Regions from separate parts of the Homo sapiens genome. Here region 1 is linked to region 2. Evidence: fine-mapped expression QTL. A gene starts in region 2. The other region holds a variant in brackets. All regions are shown on one strand. Distances are between the middles of the regions. Region 1 overlaps OPA1 (OPA1 mitochondrial dynamin like GTPase). Region 2 holds the start of OPA1 (OPA1 mitochondrial dynamin like GTPase).

Region 1 (11,214 bases), 100 kb after region 2:
CACTAATATGTTAAATTACCTTAAAAGAACAAAAATATTTATCATGCTTACTATAACCTGTGTTTTAAAATAGGAGGCCAGGCACAGTGGCTCACACCTGTAATCCCAGGACTTTGGGAGGCCAAGGCAGGAGGATCACTTGAGCCCAGGTGTTCAGGACCAGCCTGGGCAACAAAGTGAGATCCTATCTCCACAAAAAAATTAAAAATAAAAACTTAGCCAGGCGTGGTGGCACGTGCCTGTGGTCTTAGCTACGTGGGAGGCCAAGGCGGGAGGATCACCTGAGCTCAGGAGGTTGAGGCTGCAGTAAGCCCTGCCAACACCACTGCACGCCAACCTGGGCGACAGAGTAGGACCCCCATCTCAGAATATAAAATAAAGTAGGAGGTGCATGTGAAGTAGTATAGATCATGACTTTTCCAATTTTAAGAGGGGATTGGCATGTACTATGAGCAGTTCACATTTGTGGAGGAAATCTACATTTCAGAGAGTATATATTTCATTTGGAAGTCTATAAACATGAAAACCTAAAATAAATAATGTAAATCTACCTCTAGTGGCTCTGGTATTTTTAAACTTATTTATAGCTGGCAAAGTACTTTTTTGTATGTATTTTTATAGCACCATTGCACTTCTCATGTTTGTTGCAAGCATCTCCCACAGCTTCCTTTGTCTTTTAATTTTATGACATATAAATAAAAGTATACATTTCAATATGGCCATATTGATTGATCTTTTCCTTTGTAACTCTTACTACTTTATATTTAAAAAGTCATTTCCCAGTCTAAGGCCACCTCTATTTTCTTTTAGTTTTTTAAAATGGTTTCATTGTTTTATATTTGCCTATGATCCAGACATTAGTAACTGTGGGTTCTTAATTGGGCTTCAGAGAATCTGAGAATTCCTTAAAATTCTCTACATAATTGTACATGTACTTAATACATGCTTTTTTCCATGTTAAGAGTCCAGAGTTTTTGTTAGATCCTCAAAGGGGTCAGTCAGTCTCTCCTCCCACTTCCAAAAAATGTCTGAGACCTACTACTATAATCCATCTGGACTTTATTTGGGTAAAAGGTGGTATGGTGAGACTCATATTTTTCTTTTTCCCGCAAATAGTTAAGTATACCAACCATTTAGTAAATAATTACCTCCTGATTTGTGATACCTTTGAAAAATAAATGTTTTTCTTTATTTTTATCTCCACAGAGAAAGTTAGAGAAATTCAAGAAAAACTTGATGCTTTCATTGAAGCTCTTCATCAGGAGAAATAAATTAAGTGAGTAAAAATTCTCTAACTGTATTGGTGCTGACTAAATACAAAATTACACTTTTCTTAATAGTTTATCATTCTGCTTCATTTACATCCTGCTTGTCACTTATGCTGTAATTTCAATGGCATGAATCTCTGAAACTAGCTTCCGAATTTCATTTGTATAACGTTGCTTTGAATAACTTGATTGCCTTCTGGCTGAATTAAGAATATCCTCTAGAACTCATTTTGAATAGAACAAAGGTGAACACAGAGCTAAGATATTGTATAATATGCAGGTGACTCATTTTCTAGGTGTAAAGAATTGAGCTGTAGTTGACATTACTTTATTCTTCTTGCCTATAGTCTATCAATAATGATGTGTATGTTAAATATTTAACTTAGAAAGTTTTCTGTTTGACTTAATTAAAATTTTAATAATTGTTCTTAATCCTTATCTCTTTTGTTTAAAAACATTTAGATAAGTGTTTTTCCTACTTAATTTATATAGCCTTAGAATTTAGTACTCCTTGAATTTACTTTCTTGTCTGATTCTGCTTTCTGGCATTAGAGGCATGTTCCTAATAAAATACATATTTAAGGACTTTTCCTTAGTAGCATAATCAATTAATTGTTGCTGAAGAATTTTAATCAGTAAGTCACTTGCTTGAGAGGAGACCTCGCTCTGCCACCCAGGCTGGAGTGCAGTAGTGCAATCACTGTTCACTGCAGCCTCAACCTCCTGGGCTCAAGCAGTCCTCCCACATCAGCCTCTCAAGGAACTGGGGCCACAGGCTCATGCCACCATGCCCAGCTAATTTCTTTAATTTTTTGTAGAGATGGGGTTTCACCCCGTTGTCCAGGCTGGCATTTGCTTTTATAAAAGAAGTTGAGGAAAGAAAAATACTGTAGTTAAGTCATTATCACTTCAAATATTTTGTCACTTTTGTCTGTGACCCTTACCCTACAGACAGCCTGCAGCAGGCTCAGAACTAGAAGGAGTAGAAATGTAAAAGGTTCCCTCCCTGGCTACGCTCGGTTCAGGTCAGTTCAGAAAAGGCTCTTAAACCAAACTACCTACTTTCCTGTCAGGAAAATGTATTTGAGAAAGCAGGGTGGAAAGGGAAGTACAACTTCCATGGTACATCATTCGGAACAGTGTGCCAGCAAAGGAGGAGAGAAACAAGACCTAGAAAACTTGAAAATAAAGCTTTGTAACTTTATTTCATTTGTTTCTTTAGTAAGTTAAGACAGGCCAGTGCGGTGGCTCACTCCTGTAATCCCAGCACTTAGGGAGACCAAGGCGGGCGGATCACTTGAGGTCAGGAGTTGGAGACCAGCCTGACCAACATGGTGAAACCCCGTCTCTAATAAAAATACAAAAATTGCCCAGGTGTGCTGGCACATGCCTGTAATCCCAGCTACTCGGGAGCCTGAGTCAGGAGAATCACTTGAACCTGGAAGGTAGTGGTTGCAGTAAGCAGAAATCGTGCCACTGCACTCCAGCCTGGGCGACAGAGCGAGACTCTTGTCTCAAAAAAAAAGTGAAGACAGATATATGGAAATATACAAAAATACATAATCATCTTTAACACAAGCTAAACATAATTTTTGTGTTTTATAAGTGTCCGTGTTCATAAATGTTTTCTATGTCTTTTGTGTATGAATATTTTATTTTAAAACCATTAAGTGTTACAATATCACCCTAATCATGGTGGTTACCGTGAATACTTACTATTAGAAATAAACATCTGTAGCGCCTCCTTGATCTCCCCTTTAGCACCAGAGCTTACATCATAGTTCTATTTACTGACCTGTGTGTGCTTTGCGGGGAAAAATTGATGAAAGCCCCGGAAGCCCCGTTAAAAAGACAAGCTGTATTTCTGTTTTTTTAACAAAATGAGGAAGCTGAAAGCCAGCCAGTGTTTTACATAATGGTGTCTCTCCCCTCAGCTGATCAGTGTGACATCCAGAGTTGCTGTTGCTGCTACCTGTCTAGTCTCTAAGACCCTTTTCAACCCTTGTGACTTAAGACTCTGTGAACTTTTACAAAGTATCTTGTGATCTGGACAGATGATCTGTTTTGTACCCTGCAGATGCATTTAAAAGAATAAATCTGGCAGAATGGTAACCTTGCTTCATTCTGACCATTTTATCAAAGTTACCAAGGACCCTAAGGAATACTTTCTCAAGTATAGTTTTAACACATAGGATTCCTAATTAATTGTTATTCTAATATTTGCTGAAGGTGTTTATATGCTATACAGTCATACACAGATTCTTCTTCAATTAATTTTAGTATATGCTTTTAACTTATGTTTGATAAAAAAATTATGCCAATATTGTTAGGTCGGTGATAGACTATATAAGTTTAGTAAAACTAGCAAAGGTAAGCGGTTAGGCTTCAACATTGTTGTGATCATGCAGTCATCAACTTTGTTTAGAAATTTTGCATTTATCTCCCCTGACCTCAGTTTGTTAAATGGGTTTATTTTTACAGAATCGTACTCATAATCAGCTCTGCATACATCTGAAGAACAAAAACATCAACGTCTTTTGTCCAGCCTCTTTTTCTTCTGCTGTTCCACCTTTCTAAACATACAATAAAGTCATGGGATAAAAATAATCGATGTATGTTACGGGCGCTTTAACCATCAGCTGCCTCTCGAATGGAAGAACAGTGGTAATGGATTAACATCCTATTTTGTTGTACTAAAGTGACAAATCGGAATAATATAATTGGTATGGCCATTAGGTTCAGTCCTTGAAGATAAGAAACTTGTTCTCTGTTTGTTGTCTTATTTGTGGTGGCACTCGTTTAATGGATTAACTGAGGTTGCTCAATGTTCAGTTTCTTTTCCAGAAATACAATGCTAGGTGTTTTGAAATAAAACTTATATAGCAATTGTTTAAAGTTATCAATTGTATATAAAATCACAGTAGCCTGCTAAATCATTGTATGTGTCTGTAGTATTCTATTCCCAGAAACTATTTGACCATGATAATTCAGTTTATATTCACCACATGAAAGAAAAATGGGTAACAGAAGAACCCTTAAAACAGGTTAATTTGGATTGTAACGTTCAGTGAAAGAAATTTCAACCCTTCATAGCCAGCGAAGAAATTTGCCTTGGAAGCCAAGTCAGTACCAGCTTACCTATTTGATTCAGTTGCTGTTTTCTCACTCTCTATATCCATTTGAAATTGATTTATTTTAGATGTTGTATACTTACGTTAGGCTTTCTGTTAATAGTGGTTTTTCTCCTGTTGACAGAGCCACCGGATTATGACACAGGATGAGGAAGATTAAGGATAATCAATTGACTAATTTCATTTAGAATATTATCAAACATTTCAACTAGGTATCAGAAAAAGGCTTTCTTTCATAAGACTATTTTAAATAGAAATTATTTCAACAATTAAAGTAATGTTGACCATCCCCCTCTCAGCTGAATAAAGAAAAATTTAGTTCAATTTATTGCAATTTAATTACAATACTACCTTCACAACATTTTCATGTGTTTTAAATAAATATTTTTTAATTGGCTAAAGGACATTCAAGCAAAGAAATGCTTTCTTTACTTAAAATGTCTATCTCATTTGCTGCCTTTTCACTAAGCCTTTACTTTGTTAATAAAAGTGTCCATTGTGTGATGTTTTTGATTTTACAGTTTGCTAAATCTTATTTTCTTGGAGTTGCTTTTTGGTAACAGCCCCATTGCTACTCCCCATTTTATTGTTTTACATCAATGCATGCTTCGTTGTGATCCCTCAAGATGTAACACTTGGTATGCTCGGTTGAGGATATGAAAAAATACTTCCGAAACCAGGAATTCAATGTATGTTTGTTTTATACTGTTTGATAAGAAAAGTAGGTCCAGCCTTAAGCAGCACAGATGCGCTGGTAGATGCATAGTCAGGAACTTTTTTTATTTCTTTTAGGTCTAGGGACAGGAGTGAATAGAAAGGGAGGAGAGCTCTATTATGTTCTATACACAGATTAGGAGATGACCTTACTGGGTACACCCCTCTAACCAGTGCTTACAGGTTAATGCATGTTAATGAATATTTTTGCAGTTGTAAAGCATAACAATTACAACTACACATCTATTTCTAAAGAATAAAACAGGACCATATTTATTTACTTCTGTCAACTATAGAAAGAAAGACCTTCAGCTGTATTTCCACAGATTTCTCCCAAGGAAAAGGCTAATATTAGTCACTACTGTTATCACATCCCTTTGTATAAGTTTTAAAAAGAGATGGAGGGAGATCTTCATTTCTTTGAGGAGATCAGTATTGTAACGTATGTGAATAGATGATAACAATTAATATTACTAAAAGTCCCACATGAGAGTCCTGACGCCCTCTCCATGCCCCACAGTAATGTGGCTTCTTTCATGGGTTTTTTTTTCTTCTTTTTAGCTGATCTCATCCTAAGCATGCTTTATTTTTCCTTGAAAGCTAGGTATTTATCAACTGCAGATGTTATTGAAAGAAAATAAAATTCAGTCTCAAGAGTAAACCCTGTGTCTTGTGTCTGTAGTTCAAAAGTCAGAAATGATTCTAATTTAAACAAAAAGATACTAAATATACAGAAGTTAAATTCGAACTAGCCACAGAATCATTTGTTTTTATGTCAGAATTTGCAAAGAGTGGAGTGGACAAAGCTCTGTATGGAAGACTGAACAACTGTAAATAGATGATATCCAAACTTAATTTGGCTAGGACTTCAATTTTAAAAATCAGTGTACCTAGGCAGTGCACAGCACGAAATAAGTGGCCCTTGCAGCTTCCCCGTTTAACCCACTGTGCTATAGTTGCGGGTGGAACAGTCAACCTTTCTAGTAGTTTATGATATTGCCCTCTTTGTATTCCCATTTTCTACAGTTTTTTCCGCAGACTTCTTTCTGCAAATTATTCAGCCTCCAAATGCAAATGAATGATATAAAAATAAGTAGGGAACATGGCAGAGAGTGGTGCTTCCCAGCCTCACAATGTGGGAATTTGACATAGGATGAGAGTCAGAGTATAGGTTTAAAAGATAAAATCTTTAGTTAATAATTTTGTATTTATTTATTCTAGATGTATGTATCTGAGGAAAGAAATCTGGTATTTTTGCTTTCCAATAAAGGGGATCAAAGTAATGGTTTTTCTCTCAGTTCTCTAAGCTGGTCTATGTTATAGCTCTAGCAGTATGGAAATGTGCTTTAAAATATGCTTACCTTTTGAATGATCATGGCTATATGTTGTTGAGATATTTGAAACTTACCTTGTTTTCACTTGTGCACTGTGAATGAACTTTGTATTATTTTTTTAAAACCTTCACATTACGTGTAGATATTATTGCAACTTATATTTTGCCTG[A/T]GCTTGATCAAAGGTCATTTGTGTAGATGAGTAATTAAAAAATATTTAAATCACATTATAATTCTATTATTGGAGAGCATCTTTTAAATTTTTTTCTGTTTTAACGAGGGAAAGAGAAACCTGTATACCTAGGGTCATTATTTGACCCCATAGTATAACCAGATTCATGGTCTAACAAGCTCTCAGTGTGGCTTTTCTCTGAATGCTTGAATTTCACATGCCTTGCATTTCACAGTTGTACTCCATGGTCAACCGGTGCTTTTTTTCACATCGTGGTACTTGTCAAAACATTTTGTTATTTTCCTTGGTAAAATATATAAAAAAGGTTTTCTAATTTCACTTTGCTGCCAAGGCTGTCATTTTCATTAATGCTGCCAACATGTTCATATGAGGCTTACTAAGAAGTTATAACTAAGCTTTAGAACTGGAAGAGACTTTAATTTCATCTACCATCTGATTATAAACTCCTGTTACTCACTTTGTTATTCCTCCAGAACTTTGCTCATAAATGATACCTACTAATTGTCGATCATTGGATATGTCAAGTTAGGTAGCGTATAGGTGTGCCTTCTTAATTCCTTCAGAAGATGCAGAGGCAAGAACATGTTTCAATCGTGTTAGCATTGGTTTTCTTTATCAGTGCTAACAGACTCAGTGTGAGGCCCCATACTTTATTTTAAACTAGGTTTTCATCCTTGTGTAATTCAAGTTCAGAATCTTCGTGTATCAAAACGTTTGAAGAATTTAGTTACTGAAGATTTAATAGAGCAATTAATTTTTTTAGCATGTCTGATTGAAGAATTAATATATTTATCAAATTGAAATAGCTACCATGTGCCTATAGATAATACAGATGTATTTAATTATGAAGTACGTCTTAAAATAACCACATACCCGATTTGTGATAACTAAAACAATCATGTCCTGCACATATTAGACCCAGTTAATAAGTGTAGAAAACTTAAGTGTTCAAACAAATACTACAAAAATTGTTAAAGGTTCAAAACCAGGAGACAGTATCAGGAAGGCTTAAATATGGGTGATCTCTAGCTGGAAGAAGACAGCTTCTAAAACTAAGGGTAGGAAAAACCTATATCATAAGGCATTTGTTTAAATTTATATCCTAAAATGACAGAATTGAGCTTGAAAATTGAGAGTATGTATGTGATTCCTCTCCAAGACTTCTCGTGAGTTACGTACATATTCTGCAGAAGCCGCGTTAAGGTGCATTTGTGGCCAAGTCACTGACAAGGAGGTAAATACTACTTATAAATGCTGTTAAATGAAAATCTTTTTTTTTTTTTTTTTTTTTTTTTGAGTTGGAGTCTTGCTCTGTCGCCCAGGCTGGAGTGCAGTGGCGCGATCTCAGCTCACTGCAAGCTCCACCTCCCGGGTTCAGGCCATTCTCCTGCCTCAGCCTCCCGAGTAGCTGGGACTACAGGCACCTGCCACCATGCCTGGCTAATTTTTTGTATTTTTAGTAGAGATGGGGTTTCCCCATGTTAGCCAGGATGGTCTCAATCTCCTGACCTCGTGATCCACCCGCCTCGGCCTCCCAAAGTGCTGGGATCACAGGCGTGATTGTTACTCTTTGTGATAAAAAATTCTTGTTCCTGCTGTTAGTACTTTTAATTCATTAACCCAGGTGTAAACTGTTCCTTTCCAAGTATTTGGGAAATTCAGAGATCTGTTTTTGAAAAAACTAGGCCAGAGGCACCCCTGAAGATCTAGTCACAGTGCAGTGATACTGCCAGCAGCCCCCCACAGAGATATGTCTTACGGCTGTATTAAGAATATAAGTTACACTCTTTAATGTTCAGAACAGAATACTCATTCTGCTGCTTACTCTTGTAGTTATTAAATCACAGAGCAACAATACGGAAGTTAGAATTTTATCCATTTGTCAGAAAATATGCTCATGGTTTATGTGACCTAATACTTTCCAAAAGCTCTTGAGACCTCTGATATTTGTGAGAGAATATGTAGGGAATAGGTTAACCTCCTTTTTTTGCTTTGGTAAACTTCATCTGAGATTAGGCCAAATCATCAGAAAGCAATACTGCCTGGGCTGCTACTTACCTACCTCTTTGATATTACGTCCTTGGCTTCACAGGCAAGACCTTATGACACATCTATTTGAAGAAAATACACAGTCTCTTTTGCAGAAGTCTAACCTAATGACATGTCTTGATTATCACTGAAATTCATTAAGGATTACTAGATAGTACCAGCGGTTTCCCCTCCAGACACATGTATGTACTGCTCTCCTTGTGACAATGAGAACTCAAGACTTTACCATTTTCTTTGCTTCAGCTGCCAGGAAATGCTGAAATTAATTTCCCTCTCAACTGAAGGAATGAACCTAACCATTTTTCTGCTCCTTTAGTTTGTGTTCTATTTTTGTTATTAATCTCTCTTTCCATACATCTTAACGCAGAAACAGCTTTCTGTGTTAGTTTGCGTCACTAAGAAAATACAATGCTTACTTATTTCTCATTTTAAGAAATATATTTGTCTAGAGGGTTTAAGAATTCCCACATGTGCCATAATGCTCCAGGTGGTACACAGCCACTCCCCTTGCATACCTAATGTATATAATTTTTTTCTACAATCAATTCATATATATATATAGTAAAAAAATCAGAAATCACCTCAAGGACACAGTACACACCCAGTGACAATAACATGCCTGCCTCCCCGCTGCCGGGAGCAACACCACAGTAGCAGGAGGTGCCTGATGTGTGTTGAGAGGAAGGATGCAGAGAGATATGTGTAAGTTTGCAGCCATTCCAGAAATATTAACACATCCTAACTAAGGGCCTATTATAAAGGTCTGAGCAGGACTCAGAACACTACAAAGTAGACTAAAACTGGCCAGCAGCATTTTGGGATCCATGGAGAAACTCCACTGAATTCTTTTTGAACGGTCAATATCCTATCTTGCCAAGGATTGGTCCCATGAAACATTTTTGGTTTCCCTTTAAAATTTTGAAACTAAGAAGAAAACTTGAATCCAGAGCAAAGAAACCAGTATACCTTGTGTTTTGCACCCATTATCACAGAAAGTATTGTTTCCATTTTATAGATGAGAAAATCAGCTCAGGTTTTGCACAAGGTTATTCTAGTTGAATAGCAAAGTTGAAACTTGAAAACAAGTATGATTACAAGCCTATGCACTTTCCAAAATATGCTCCCTTTCAGAAATACTTTTCGGAAAGTAAACATTTATGATATTAGGAGCACATTAGGGCACATGATATACCTAGAAAGTACAAAATGACCTAACTCATAACAAAAATGGCCTATGATAGTCTTTACTAATTACATGAGGCTATTGTTGCATTGCAAGAATGGAACTATCAGCAGAGATGTGTGGCTGCCTGTGAGACCTTAGTGGACAAGAAGATGAGATTCAGTAGGTTCTAATTTCATGTTAACGCCAGGCCTTAAGTTTTAGGTGTAAAAAACAAGTGCTTTGCAATTCTCAACATGTTAATAATGTTAATTCTCTCATTTTATCCTGTGCAGATTCTGTCAATCTTTTTTAGTTAGTCCAAGTATTAAAATATGGAATTGCTCTTTCCTCAGTTTTTAAAAACTTGATTGAATATTTTCTTTTTCCAAATTACTATTTTTTTTTTTTTTGAGACAGGGTTTCTCACTGTCCCTCATGCTGGAGTGCAGTGACACAATCACAGCTCACTGCAACCTCGACCTCCTGGGCTCAAGTGATCCTCCCACCTCAACCTCTCGAGTAGGTGGGACTACAGGGACACACCACCATGCCTAGCTAATCTTTTTTTTAATTTTTAGTAGAGATGAGATCTCAATATGTTGCCAAACTGATCTCAAAATTCTGAGTTCAGGCAAGCCTCCTACCTCAGCCTTCCGGAGTGCTGGGATTATAAGCGTGAGCCACCTAGCCTGGCCCAAATTACTACTTTTGAGTGTCTTTCTGCGCCCCACCCCCAATAAAATTATTTTGAAGGAAAAGCTATTAGCAGAATTCTTTAAAATTTCTACTAAACTTATATTCCAGGTATCTCATGTACATTCTTTAATTTTCTTGCCTTGAGATATGTCTGGTTTCCCAAGACTATTAGGACCGAAAGACAGATTTTCATGCCAAAATCTGTATGAGTTATCTTTACCCGTATCAGAACATCTCTAATATGAATGCTTAATTGAACATGCCTGCCATTTGCTGCCTCTGCCATTTCATAGGCTGTTGGTACCATCACAAAGCCACTCCCACTTTCATACATTCAGATTTCTCAAAACATCTGAGACATTCACATTCTTGCTAATTATACTCATTGCTCTGGTCATAGCTGAATCAAGATTCTGAGAGTGTAATTTTGTTCGCGTCAAAAGCATTGTTTTCTTATCCTGTTGGTGGAGTGAGGCATTTGGACCTGGATGCTCTCCCCATTGGGCGCCCCCCGTTGGTACGTTTCGCCAGCTGTGTACTCTATGATTGGCTGGCCTTTTGATGTGCAGGTACTACAAGTTGGTCACAAACTTGTGTACAATGGGCCTGTTCTGGTTCATGTGAAAATCAACATCCTTTTTTGTGTTACCGGGTGACAGGATGCTAC
Region 2 (11,214 bases):
AAGCCAGCATTATCATCCCCTTGTAATCAGCTTTTCTATATTTGTGACTGTTACTAATAATGTCAATTGACTTTGGCTTCAACCCCATTATCTTTTGATTCCTCTTCCTAGTTTCTTCATTTAGCTTTTCATTGTTTTAAATACTCCGAAGTATCCTTTCAAAGAATCTCTCACTTCTTCCCATTACCAGGCTTTGGTTAAGGGCCCTCACACTTGACTTTCTCAACAGCCCCCTATCCAGTCTTCCTGACCCTCAGTTTCCCTCTTTACAAATTCATCCTTTTCTGTTTCTCCAGGATTATCTTTTTTGAGCCCACTTTATGACACTATAGTCTGCCTCTGTGGGTAGTAACTGTTGCTACCCATTACTTGGTCCTCAGCTTGTACTACCTCACATTAATGTTTACCTTTTATGTATGTCTGTCTTCCTAACCAAACCATGGTTAGTTGAGGGTGGGAACTGTGGTTTACTCTTTTTAAAAAAATATATCCTCAGGCCTGGCACGGTGGCTGATGCCTGTAATCCTAGCACTTTGGAAGGTTGAGGCAGGCAGATTACTTGAGGTCAGGAGTTTGAAACCAGCCTGGCCAAAATGGTGAAACCCCGTCTCTACTAAAATACAAAAACTTAGCCAGGCATGGTGGCATGCACCTGTAATCCCAGCTACTCAGGAGACTGAGGCAGGAGAATCACTTAAACCTGGGAGGTGGAGGTTACAGTGAGCCGAGATTGTGCCACTGCGCTCCAGCCTGGGCGACAAAGTGAGACTCTGTCTCAAAACAAACAAACAAACAAACAAAAACCAAATATATATATATGTGTGTGTGTGTGTGTATATAATTTGTGTGTGTATATATATGTATTTATATCCTCGACTAGGGTTCATAGGAAGTGACTGTAAATGTTTGTTAATAAGGATTATAACATGCTTTTCTGAGGGCTGGGGAGAGTTTGATAATGATGATGGTGCAAACATGTATGACTTCAGCTAATTATTGGCTTCTCCAGGAAACCACAAAGAGTAGTGTTAAGGAACTTGGAGATCTCCCAAGAAGAACTTTGCAAAAGCTTTTATGTATAAATTTAAATATAAAACTTATGAAATCAATTTTAAACATTTCCATTTCCATTAACATCTCTCATTACCTTCCTTTCTGAAAATTTCTGATTCGTTGGATAATTCTGAAAAGGGTCCCTTTTCCTGCTAAGGTAAATATTTAGAGTTTTACCTGGTGAATTGCTCAATTCCCAGCTGAACTGGAAAATTTAGTTTAAAGTAGTAAAATTATTTCATGACTTCTGGATCAGAAAAATATTTTTAACATGTTTTTACAAGTAATTAATACACAAGTTCAGAGTATAAAAGGGTTTACAATAAATGTAAGCCTCCCTCCCACTCATGACCCACTAACTTCAAGTCCTTCCTTGACTCTGCCCTTCACTAGGGCTTATCAACTCAAATATTTTCGTGGGTTAGGCATGTAACATAAATGAGTAATGCAAGTATGTCTGTTGTATAATGTCATATTAAATTGTATTCATATAATTTATTCATATAATTTTACTTGCCTACTTGCATACTTGTGTTCTTTTGCCAAAAAAAAAAAAAAAAAAAGCTCTTTCTCATTGTTTTGGAAATGGCTGACCCTCTCAGTCCTTCATTTTCTCTCACTTTTCATATTGTAATCATCCAGCAGGTTCTTCCTGCTCACTGCACAGACAAAATCATTTCACTGAGACCAGGGCATCGCAGTAGAAAAAGAGTTTAACTGATTCAAGACCAGCCTATGCAGGAGAACTGGAGTTGTCACTCAAATCAATCTTCCTGAAGGCTCTGAGGTTAGAGGTTTTTATGGACAATTTAGTGGGCAAGGGGTAGGGAATGGATGCTGCTGATTGGTTGGGGATGAAATAATAGGAAAACATTCCTTGTGTGCTGAGTCCACCTCTGGGCGGGGCCACAGGATCACTTGAGTCATGAGTCATAAGTCTCGATGGGGTGAGTCTGAAATATACCGCAAAAAAGCAGTCTTAGATTCTATAGTAATGATGTTATCTATAGGAGCAATTGGGGAAGTCATAAGATTTGTGAGTTCTGGCCACATTGATTCCTGAGCAGTAAGGGACTATAGAAACCATACCTACGTCTTAGCACAGTTCAGGCCCCTCTCATGATCCTGTTCTCTTGGCCTTTCTTACAAAGGTGGTTTTTGGTTCCTGAGCAACGAGGGAGTTAGCTTTAGGAAGGGACTATTATAATCCTTTCTTTCAAGTTAAACTATAAACTACATTCCTCCCCAAAGTTCATTTGGCTTAAGTCCAGGAATGAGCAAGGACAGCTTGGAGGTCAGAAGCAAGATGGAGTCAACTATGTCAGGTTCCTCTTGTCATAATTTTGCCAAGGCAGTTTCAATATAAGTAGTGGTTGTTTTTCCTCTTAATTTTTACTAAGAAAAGTAGAAGCACAAGCTTCATGATAAACAGTAATTGATGTGTTCAATTTCAGAAAGATGAAGGAGTGTGAACTACCGGAGAGGACATGAGTGCCTGAAGGATAAAACTACTACTTGGCTCCTGGTTCCGAGACATTTTTTGTATATAAGAATTGAAGGTTGATGTTGTTAGGCATCCTGATATTTTTATGTGATTTTTTAAAATGTGAAATTTGTTGATTTTTATTTGGCAACAAATGTAGCATTTTTTTGCTTGTTTGTTTTTGAGACGGAGTCTCGATCTGTCGCTCAGGCTGGAGTGCAGTGGCACAATCTCAGCTCACTGCAACCTCTGCCTCCTGGGTTCAAGCAATTTTTCTGCCTCAGCCTCCGAGTAGCTGGCTAATTTTTTTATTTTTAGTAGAGACAGGGTTTCACCATATTGGCCAGGCTGGTCTCAAACTCCTGACCTCGTGATCTGCCTTCCTCGGCCTCCCAAAGTGCTGGGATTACAGGCATAAGCCGCCATGCCCAGCCCAAATGTAGTGTTATTTTTAAAACACTGCATAGGCCAACACTGTCTAAACCAAACAAAACAGGTCTGTGGGCTGAATTTGGTCCAATGGTTGCAGTTTATTATACAACAGTTTGCCCTTTTTTCATGGCAACACTATGTATCTATGGGAGATCATTCCTTATCAGGACATACAGACCTAAAGCATAGGTTTTCATGGCTAGTACGGATGTAATTTATGTGTCTAGTTCCTATACATGGACATTTATACTGATTCCAATCTTTTCCCATTTCATACAGTGCAGAAATAAACATCATCATGCATACATCTTTGCATACATGGGAATGATTCCACAGGATAAATGCCTAGAAGTAGAACTGCAAAACAAGGGCTTCATAAAACATATGATAACCATATATAAATGGTGATGGTGGTTAGTTTCTCCTTTTTTTATGGTTAAAGTCTTTTATCCCTAATTTTTCTTTTTTGTTGTTGTTGTTAAAGTCTCTTGGTTTCTCTTATTTTATTTTCTAAAATAACAAGGAAGTAACGATTACAAAGACACTTTTTGTACAACCCTACAATCCCAGGAAGATCTACAGTTTGCACAGGTTGGTACAGCAAATTGCTCTCTGGACCTGCCATTGAAACAGTCACCACAATAAATAAAGAAAATTCTAAGAGTCCTGCATTTGGGAAGTTTACTATCAATGGCTAGGTCTACTCTTGGTGGTATTGTGAGTGCATGGGTCCAGACTTATGATTCTGACAATTAAGGGAAAAGGAATTGTCTTTATGCTCTGTGTATTTGTGTATGTGTGTGGCATGGGTGGGGGGCGGGTAGTGGGGAGGAGGTGAAAGGTCCCTGAAGTAAAGAGGATGCACAGGACCCTTTTATTTTAGTCCCTAAAAATTGGCTTCATAACCGTTCACAGGCCACATCCCTTTTACGGGCCCTGGTTTCCTTACAAAACATAAAAGGTTTGTGTTGGAAGGGGAAAGGAGTATTTAAAGTGATGGAGGAGAGGAGCTCAAGATGGCTGAGATCTGGGCCTGTCCAACATTGAGAAATTTGGGAGGGGAGCCATCAAAGAAGCCTGGGAGCAGCAGTTCCAGGGAAAAAGGAGAATGTGATGGCCAGAGAGCCAAAAGAAAAAGTAGTTGAAGGAGTGCTCAGCACTAGGCATCTGAACTGAATGCTGTGGCAGGCTCACTGGCCACAAACAATAGGGAGCTGGTGGAGGCCTTGACGAGGACCATTTCAACAAACTGGTGGGCTTAAAATCCGGAAGAAACAGTTGAACAAATCATTTTGACGCCTTTTATAAACCACACAAGCTTATTCCAAACCCGTTACTGGCCTAACTGATTTAAGTCCCTTTCCCATCTGATCCTCAGAGATTCTAAGGGACTTAGCCTATCCATGACTCTTCGTCCTGCTTCTCACCTCCCATGATTGCCCTAACGATGTGAAAGTGCTTTCAAACAAAGATGCCCAAGAAAGAAGGTAGGCAAATGTGCAAGCATTAGTTTGTAGTACGCTATTACTGTATTTCACCTTGCACTCTCTAGTTTCCTTCGTGCTCCCTCAATATCCAACTCTTAATAAATTCATGGCTCCCGGTGAGCATTCATCAATTCTCATTCCACGCCTTTAGCCCTTCCCGTTCCCGCCCAACTCTCGCTCCCTCCCCTGGCCAAATCTCTAACCTGCAAGGCTAATTCCGAATTCCAAATCGGAAGCAAGAGGGCGGGGCCCCGTGAGAGGCGATGGATTGCTCCAGTCCGTTCCCGACGCACTGTGCGCATGCGCTGGTCCTCCGCGGACCGTTCGTGCTGCCCGCCTAGAAAGGGTGAAGTGGTTGTTTCCGTGACGGACTGAGTACGGGTGCCTGTCAGGCTCTTGCGGAAGTCCATGCGCCATTGGGAGGGCCTCGGCCGCGGCTCTGTGCCCTTGCTGCTGAGGGCCACTTCCTGGGTCATTCCTGGACCGGGAGCCGGGCTGGGGCTCACACGGGGGCTCCCGCGTGGCCGTCTCGGCGCCTGCGTGACCTCCCCGCCGGCGGGATGTGGCGACTACGTCGGGCCGCTGTGGCCTGGTAAGTGCAGGCTCTAATCTGGCCCCGTTAATTCTGGGGCCTCTTGAGAGTGGGGCTGTCTTATCTCTATCTCCAAAAATGTGCAGGTGACTCTCAGGCCAGGCCGACGGCAGTTGGAGAATTCCCAGATGTTCTTGAGGACCCAGAATGACAGGAGCCCTGGCTGGGCTTACGTTCGGAGCCGGCTTCAATACTGGCCCTTTTCTCTGGCCCTACCCAACCCGAAAATTCTGGACGCCTCTCAATCTTGGCCCGTCTCTATTGTCCTTTTGTCTCTGCCCTTTACACCCTTGTGTCTTCAGTGTTCTGTCTGTCTCTGGTTGCCTCTTTTGCCTTTTTTCTGTCCTCTCCCTGCCAGGTTTGGCTCTGTCCATGAGTCACCTCTCTCCACATTTCTCCTAACTCTCGGTGTCTTCTTTTTCTTCCATTTCCACGCCATGTGTACATTGCATCTTCAGGTACCTGGGCTCTTCTATCGGGGAAAGGGGCGTCCGTCTCTTTCCCTAGCCCGCTGATAGAAGTCAGAACTAGAGCAATGACGCACACGGTGTCAGAGACGGTGATTCGAGATGCCCTTTCAATAGCAGCTTTTTTCTGTGTTTCGGGAGGGAGACTTACTTTTTGATGCAAGGTCGTGAACGTGGCACCACCTTTCTAATCTCAATCATTGTTGCCCTGGGGTGGTTTAATTCTAAATAGAAAATCATAGAAATCTTTTCATTTCTGTGCGTTACTATATGCATTGTAATGAGATTAAATTGGATTTTATAGGAAATTTTGTTCTAGTATCATTAGATACCTTCAAGCTTAGCTCATTGTTGCAGGCATTTGATAGGAAGTAAGATGCATCAAGCAAAATTGGAAAAACGTGGTTTTCCTGAATTAACTTCTAAGCAGTTGTTTTGAATTTTTTCCAGACCTTTTTAAGTGGTATAGATAATTTATCGTGTTTATAAGGAATGGAATGCATTCGTTAGTTTGTTTTTGTTTTGTTTTGAGACGGAGTCTTGCTCTGTCGTCCAGGCTGGAGTGCAGTAGCGCTATCTCGGCTCACTGCAACCTCCGCCTCCCAGGTTCAAGCAATTCTCCTGTCTCCGCCTCCGGAGTAGCTGGAATTACAGGCACGCGCCAGCACGCCTAGCTAATTTTTGTATTTTTAGTAGAGAGGGGGTTTCACCATTTTGGCCAGGCTGGTCTCGAACTCCTGACCTCATGTGATCCACCCTCCTCGACTTCCCAAAGTGCTGGGATTACAACCGTGAGCCACCGCGCCCGGCCCAATTTGTTTTATATAGGTTAACTGGAGTCCAAAATACAGAACTAGATGAGATAACAATAGTTAACAGTGTTAGTCAGTTAGAATTATTGCATAGGTATTTTTAATCTCATGGAATTTTAGTCTTTGAGTAAGTTCACAGCCCTTGGTATTAAAGTAAGTTATTTACAACCCTTGCATTTCTACTTCTCAATATTTAGTGAGGAAACATATCTGATTTTCTTTAAATAAAAAGAGAAAAGACTGCAGAAGATAGCATTCTCTGTTGGAGCAATTAAGATGTATAAGAAGAACTACAAAGACGGAGTTTTAAAACAAACTGATTTATAAGTGGTATTTATTTAATTGGCTGTCATTGGGCTAAATTATTTCTAAAGTTACCATGGATGCCATTGAGTCATGGCTTAAAAATGTCTCCTGGTGATGGCACAGTTTAGCTACCTAAAGAAGTAGAGATGTGGGAAGCCAGAAGCCCCAAGCTCTGCAGTTTTTCTTTTGCTATAGTTCCTTTGCATGTTGTGAAAGAATACAGTTAAATTCCTGCTCCCTAACAGATGAGAGCATAAGCATTTCTTTGGGCATACATATGTAAATACATGCTCATGGACATGTGAAAAGATCAATACTAACATTTGGGTGCAATAAATAATTGTGTAAAATTATTTTTAAAAGAATTACATATTAGGAAATGATATATTGATTAAAAGTGATAGTCAATGAACAAGAGAGTAGATTTCTGGGGGAAACCTATTTTGCATCATACTTGATTTTTAGTTTTGACTGAATATTGAAGTCTATATTCAAAATTCTTTTCCTTTAGAACTGTAAAGGCATTGCTGCATTTTCTTCTAATGTAATTGTTTATTGCTGCTGAGAATTCTTATGACAATCTGATTTTTTCATCTTCATGATTATCTTGTTTTTCCCTTCATGGAATCTGTTAGGGTCTTGACTTTATCCTTTATCCTAAATTTCTCAAGGCTTGGACCAGGTGTGGGTTTGGTTTTGTTTTCTTTTGCTACTCATTTGACTTGGCACACTCAGTGGGCCTTTCCCTTTATCTTTCTTCATTTCTGAGACGTTTTTCTCTCTTATTTTTTATTATCTTCCTTTCATTTTTCCTGTCCTTTTTCTTTCTAGACATCTCTTAGGAGGATAGTGGTCCTCTTAGATTGATATGTTATGTCCGTGATTTCCAAAGTAAGATTTGTACTCGTCGTCTGTTAAAAGGAAAAGCATACATATACCCTATGTATATATGCACACTTTTTTATTTTTAAATTATATATGTATCTGTACTAATTATTTACATTGTAAGTCAACCCTAACATAATCTTAAAGGATAAGATACAAAACATACTGCATCTAGAAGCTTCAGTACTTTCTTCCTGAATCCCAGTAGATCCTTTTGTTCATCCCACGGGATGCATTCCGCCCCCATCCTCCCACTCCCTTTGGATACCACATTACCACAGCTCTGCATCACTTAACTTTCCTCTTATGTTTTTCACCTTTTTTTTTTTTTTTTTTTTGCATTTTATGTCCTGGGGAATTTCCTTAATTCATTTCATGGTTTTACTGTTGATTTTTTTAATATTGGCCATCGCAACTTTTCTTTTCTTTTCCTTTCCTTTCCTTTCCTTTCCTTTCCTTTTCTTTTCTTTTCTTTTCTTTTCTTAATTTTCTTTTCTTTTCTTTTCTTTTCTGTTCTTTTCTTTTCTTTTCTTTTCTTTTCTTTCACACAGGATCTTGGCGTGTTGTCCAGGCTGGCCTCGAACTCCTGGGCTCAGGTAATCCTCTCACCTTGGCCTCCCAAAATGCCAGGATTACAGGCGTGCGCCACTGCATTTGGCGGCAACTTAATTTTTTTATTTTTATTTTTCCTTTTAGAGGACACCTAGCACTGAGCATTGCAACTTTTCATTTCCATGAACTTTTAAGAAAACTCTTAAAGACATGTTTAATTCTGTACACTTTCTATTGTTCTTTGATTGCTGTTTTTGAATAACAACAAGGAGTACGCCTTAGCATTTTGATGGTATCCTCTTAATAGTCGCAATAATAGTCCCCTTGGCGCTCTGTATACTCTCAAGTCTTAAATGTTTTGTATGCAGCTGTACGTTGACAGTTGAATGGTCTCGCTCCAAGTGGATCAGCAAGAACATAAAGAATCATTTAACTGGTACAGGCTGCGGCTTGTGAATTCCCTATTAACACCAAAGAAGACGTGTGAGACTCCGTACTGAAACTAAAGACGACTTGTGAGTTCCACACTGAGATCAAATAAGTCTTTATGATGGTGACAGAGAGTGGTGTCAACGCCTAAAGTTTTGGTTAATCTCTCTAAATTGAGGGGCTGACCAAAAGGGGGAACTTAACTGTATTAGACATAATTTTGAGAAACATGGGTATGTGGATGGTAATGGAGGAAATGGGTGTAGATGAGATTGCCTAGGGAGAGTGAGAAGTAGGTTAGGTCTAAGCCTTGATGAGTTCCCAACATTTCCAAGGGTAGTTGAGGATACTGAAAATGAGTGGCCAGTGAGATAGAGGTAAAGCTAGAGACTGCCCAGGGGAGAGGAATTTTCAACAATGAGGAGGTGTCAACATTGTCAGGTATTGCTGAGAGGTCAGATAAAACCAGAATTGAGCAAAATGGCCATTGGAAGCCTATGGTGCCCTCCGTAAGAGCTGTTTCGCTGAAGTGATAGAAACGGAAATCAGGCTGGGCACAGTGGCTCACTCCTGTAATCCCAGCACTTTGGGAGGCCGAGGTGGGCGGATCACCTGAGGTTAGGAGTTCGAGACCAGCCTGGCCAACATGGTGAAACCCTGTCTCTACTAAAAATACAAAAAGTAGCCAGGTGTGGTGGCAGGTCCCTGTAATCCCAGCTACTCAGGAGGCTGAGGCAGGAGAATCGCTTGAGCCCCAGAGGCGGAGGTTGCAGTGAGCAGAGATCGAGCCACTGCACTCCAACCTGGGTGACAGAGCAAGACTCCGTTTCAAAAAAAAAAAAAAAAAAAGAAATGGAAATCAGGATGGTTTGGCTTTTATTTTAATAAAATAGCTAGAGCAGGGAAATGGGGTACTTTTTTTCCCCCTTTTAAGATGAGACATAGCCAGGTGCAGTGGCTTACACCTGTAATCCCAACACTTTGAAAGGGAGGGTCGCTTGAGCTCAGGAGTTTGAGACCAGCCTAGGCAACATAGCAAGACCTTGTCTCTACTAAAATTCAAAAAAAATTAACTGGGCATGCTGGCACACACCTCTAGTCCCAGCTATTTATGAAGCTGAGGCAGGAGGATCACACTTGAGCCCAGATACGTGGGGCTGCAGTGAGCCCTGATAATGCCATTGCACTCCACGTTGGGCAACAGAGCAAGACTTCGTCTCAAAAATAAATAAATACCCTGTCTCAAAAATAAAAAATAAATATGGGAGGAGAGATTTGACTTAGATTCCTCAAAGGGCAGGAGGAAAGAGAATTCCAAACAGTGATTCACCTTTAATGGGAGAAAGATCGCTTAATTTTACATGAGGAAGAAGAGGATTGGTGGAGATACAGTAGGTGAACAGTTTTTGTATGAGGAAGTTGAACATGTGTCATTCTAATAGCTTCCATTCTCTGTGAAGTAGAGGGCAAGGTCATCTACTGAGAGTTGGGGAGGTCAAGAGAGATAAGGGGAGATTAGAAGAGCTCTTCTAGCAGAGAGTGGAAGAATGAATTGCTAAGAGAGATGAAGTAGGATTGTTAAGTAGTTTTGAGGGCCCTGTTGAGATGTGCTTCCAGTTGGGTGTGATTTTCTCCAGTAGTGCTTTATTTCCCTGGGTACAGGCAGAGAGAAAAACAATAAGGCTCATGTAGGGTTTGTATTTTGTTGGACAAGTCAAACAGAAAAGTCAGAGGACGAGGGAGTTTAGAATGTTTGCAAAAGAGTTATTGAAACGATGAACCGCATAATCTAAGGTGGTAAGTGGGTGAATAGATAAGGAGGATGTGAATAGGTAAGGAGAAGAAAGAAATATCAGATTATTGATTATTGATGGCGACTCTCTAATACAGCTATTATGCCATTTTAACCGATTAAGAAACTAAGGCTTTAGAAAATTCATAATTTGCCCTAACTGCACAGCTAGTAAGCAGTGGAAATGTGATTGGAACCAGAGTTCTTCTGACTCAATAGACTAAATGGATGTAAGGATGTAGTTGAAAGAAGGGTGAGCTAAACGTTGTGGAACCATGAGCTCTTTCTCTGGTTGATATCCCTCTCTGTAAGTGATAACATGGGTCACGCTGGATAAAACCTTGTGGTGATTGGTGACTTTCCTTTGTCCTTCCTCCTGTGCCTAGTCTGGCGAGTATCTGCCTTTCCCTTTCCTTTCTCATTGCTGCCACCTAACTTTAGGCTCTTCCCCTTACATCTGGGTAACTGAAATAAGATCACCTTTTTGTTCCCCTTCTGATTTACTTTGACCTAACATTATCTTTACTATTTTCTTTAAATTAATGTTTCATTAGTCTTATTCTACTCAGGAACTCTGTAGTTCCCCATTGCCTACGAAAAAAAGTTAAGCCTCAGCCTTATATTCAGTGACTCTTCAATTGGATATTCAGTCCAGTTTTACTCCTCCTATGAGCCTTCTATGCCAGCTCCTTGGGTCTCTTGCCCTTTCATTGTCTCAGCTCTGCACCCTTCTTTCTCTTTTTTATTCTTTTTTTTTTTTGTACTTTTTTGGTTTTCTTTTTGGTTTCTTTTTTTGTTTTATTTATTAAACCTCCATCACACTTCATCCTATGGAGTTTTGAACCACAGCAAGGTGCAGTATCATCCTGGGGCTCTGGAGGAAGTGGCAGGGAGTCCAAAATGTCACCTTAGCTTCTTATCTGG

The links.
Region 1: its variant is fine-mapped to the expression of OPA1 in whole blood (TOPMed, PIP above 0.99).

What each region holds. Positions count from the first base shown.
Region 1 is chr3:193,690,857-193,702,070 of GRCh38, forward strand. It overlaps OPA1 (OPA1 mitochondrial dynamin like GTPase), which reads left to right. Exons shown (of 31, transcript NM_130837.3): 30 at 1,207-1,276; 31 at 3,750-6,955. The coding sequence ends at 1,271. Among named protein-coding and RNA genes, the nearest start is that of OPA1-AS1, 69 kb to the left of the region's middle. The variant A/T (reference allele first, on the strand shown) is at 6,617.
Region 2 is chr3:193,588,363-193,599,576 of GRCh38, forward strand. It overlaps OPA1 (OPA1 mitochondrial dynamin like GTPase), which reads left to right and starts at 4,846. Exons shown (of 31, transcript NM_130837.3): 1 at 4,846-5,047. The coding sequence starts at 5,016. It also overlaps a transcript of ATP13A4 not described here. RefSeq lists enhancers at 4,508-5,159, 4,555-4,624, 4,675-4,724, 5,160-5,811, 5,325-5,404 and a silencer at 4,945-5,094.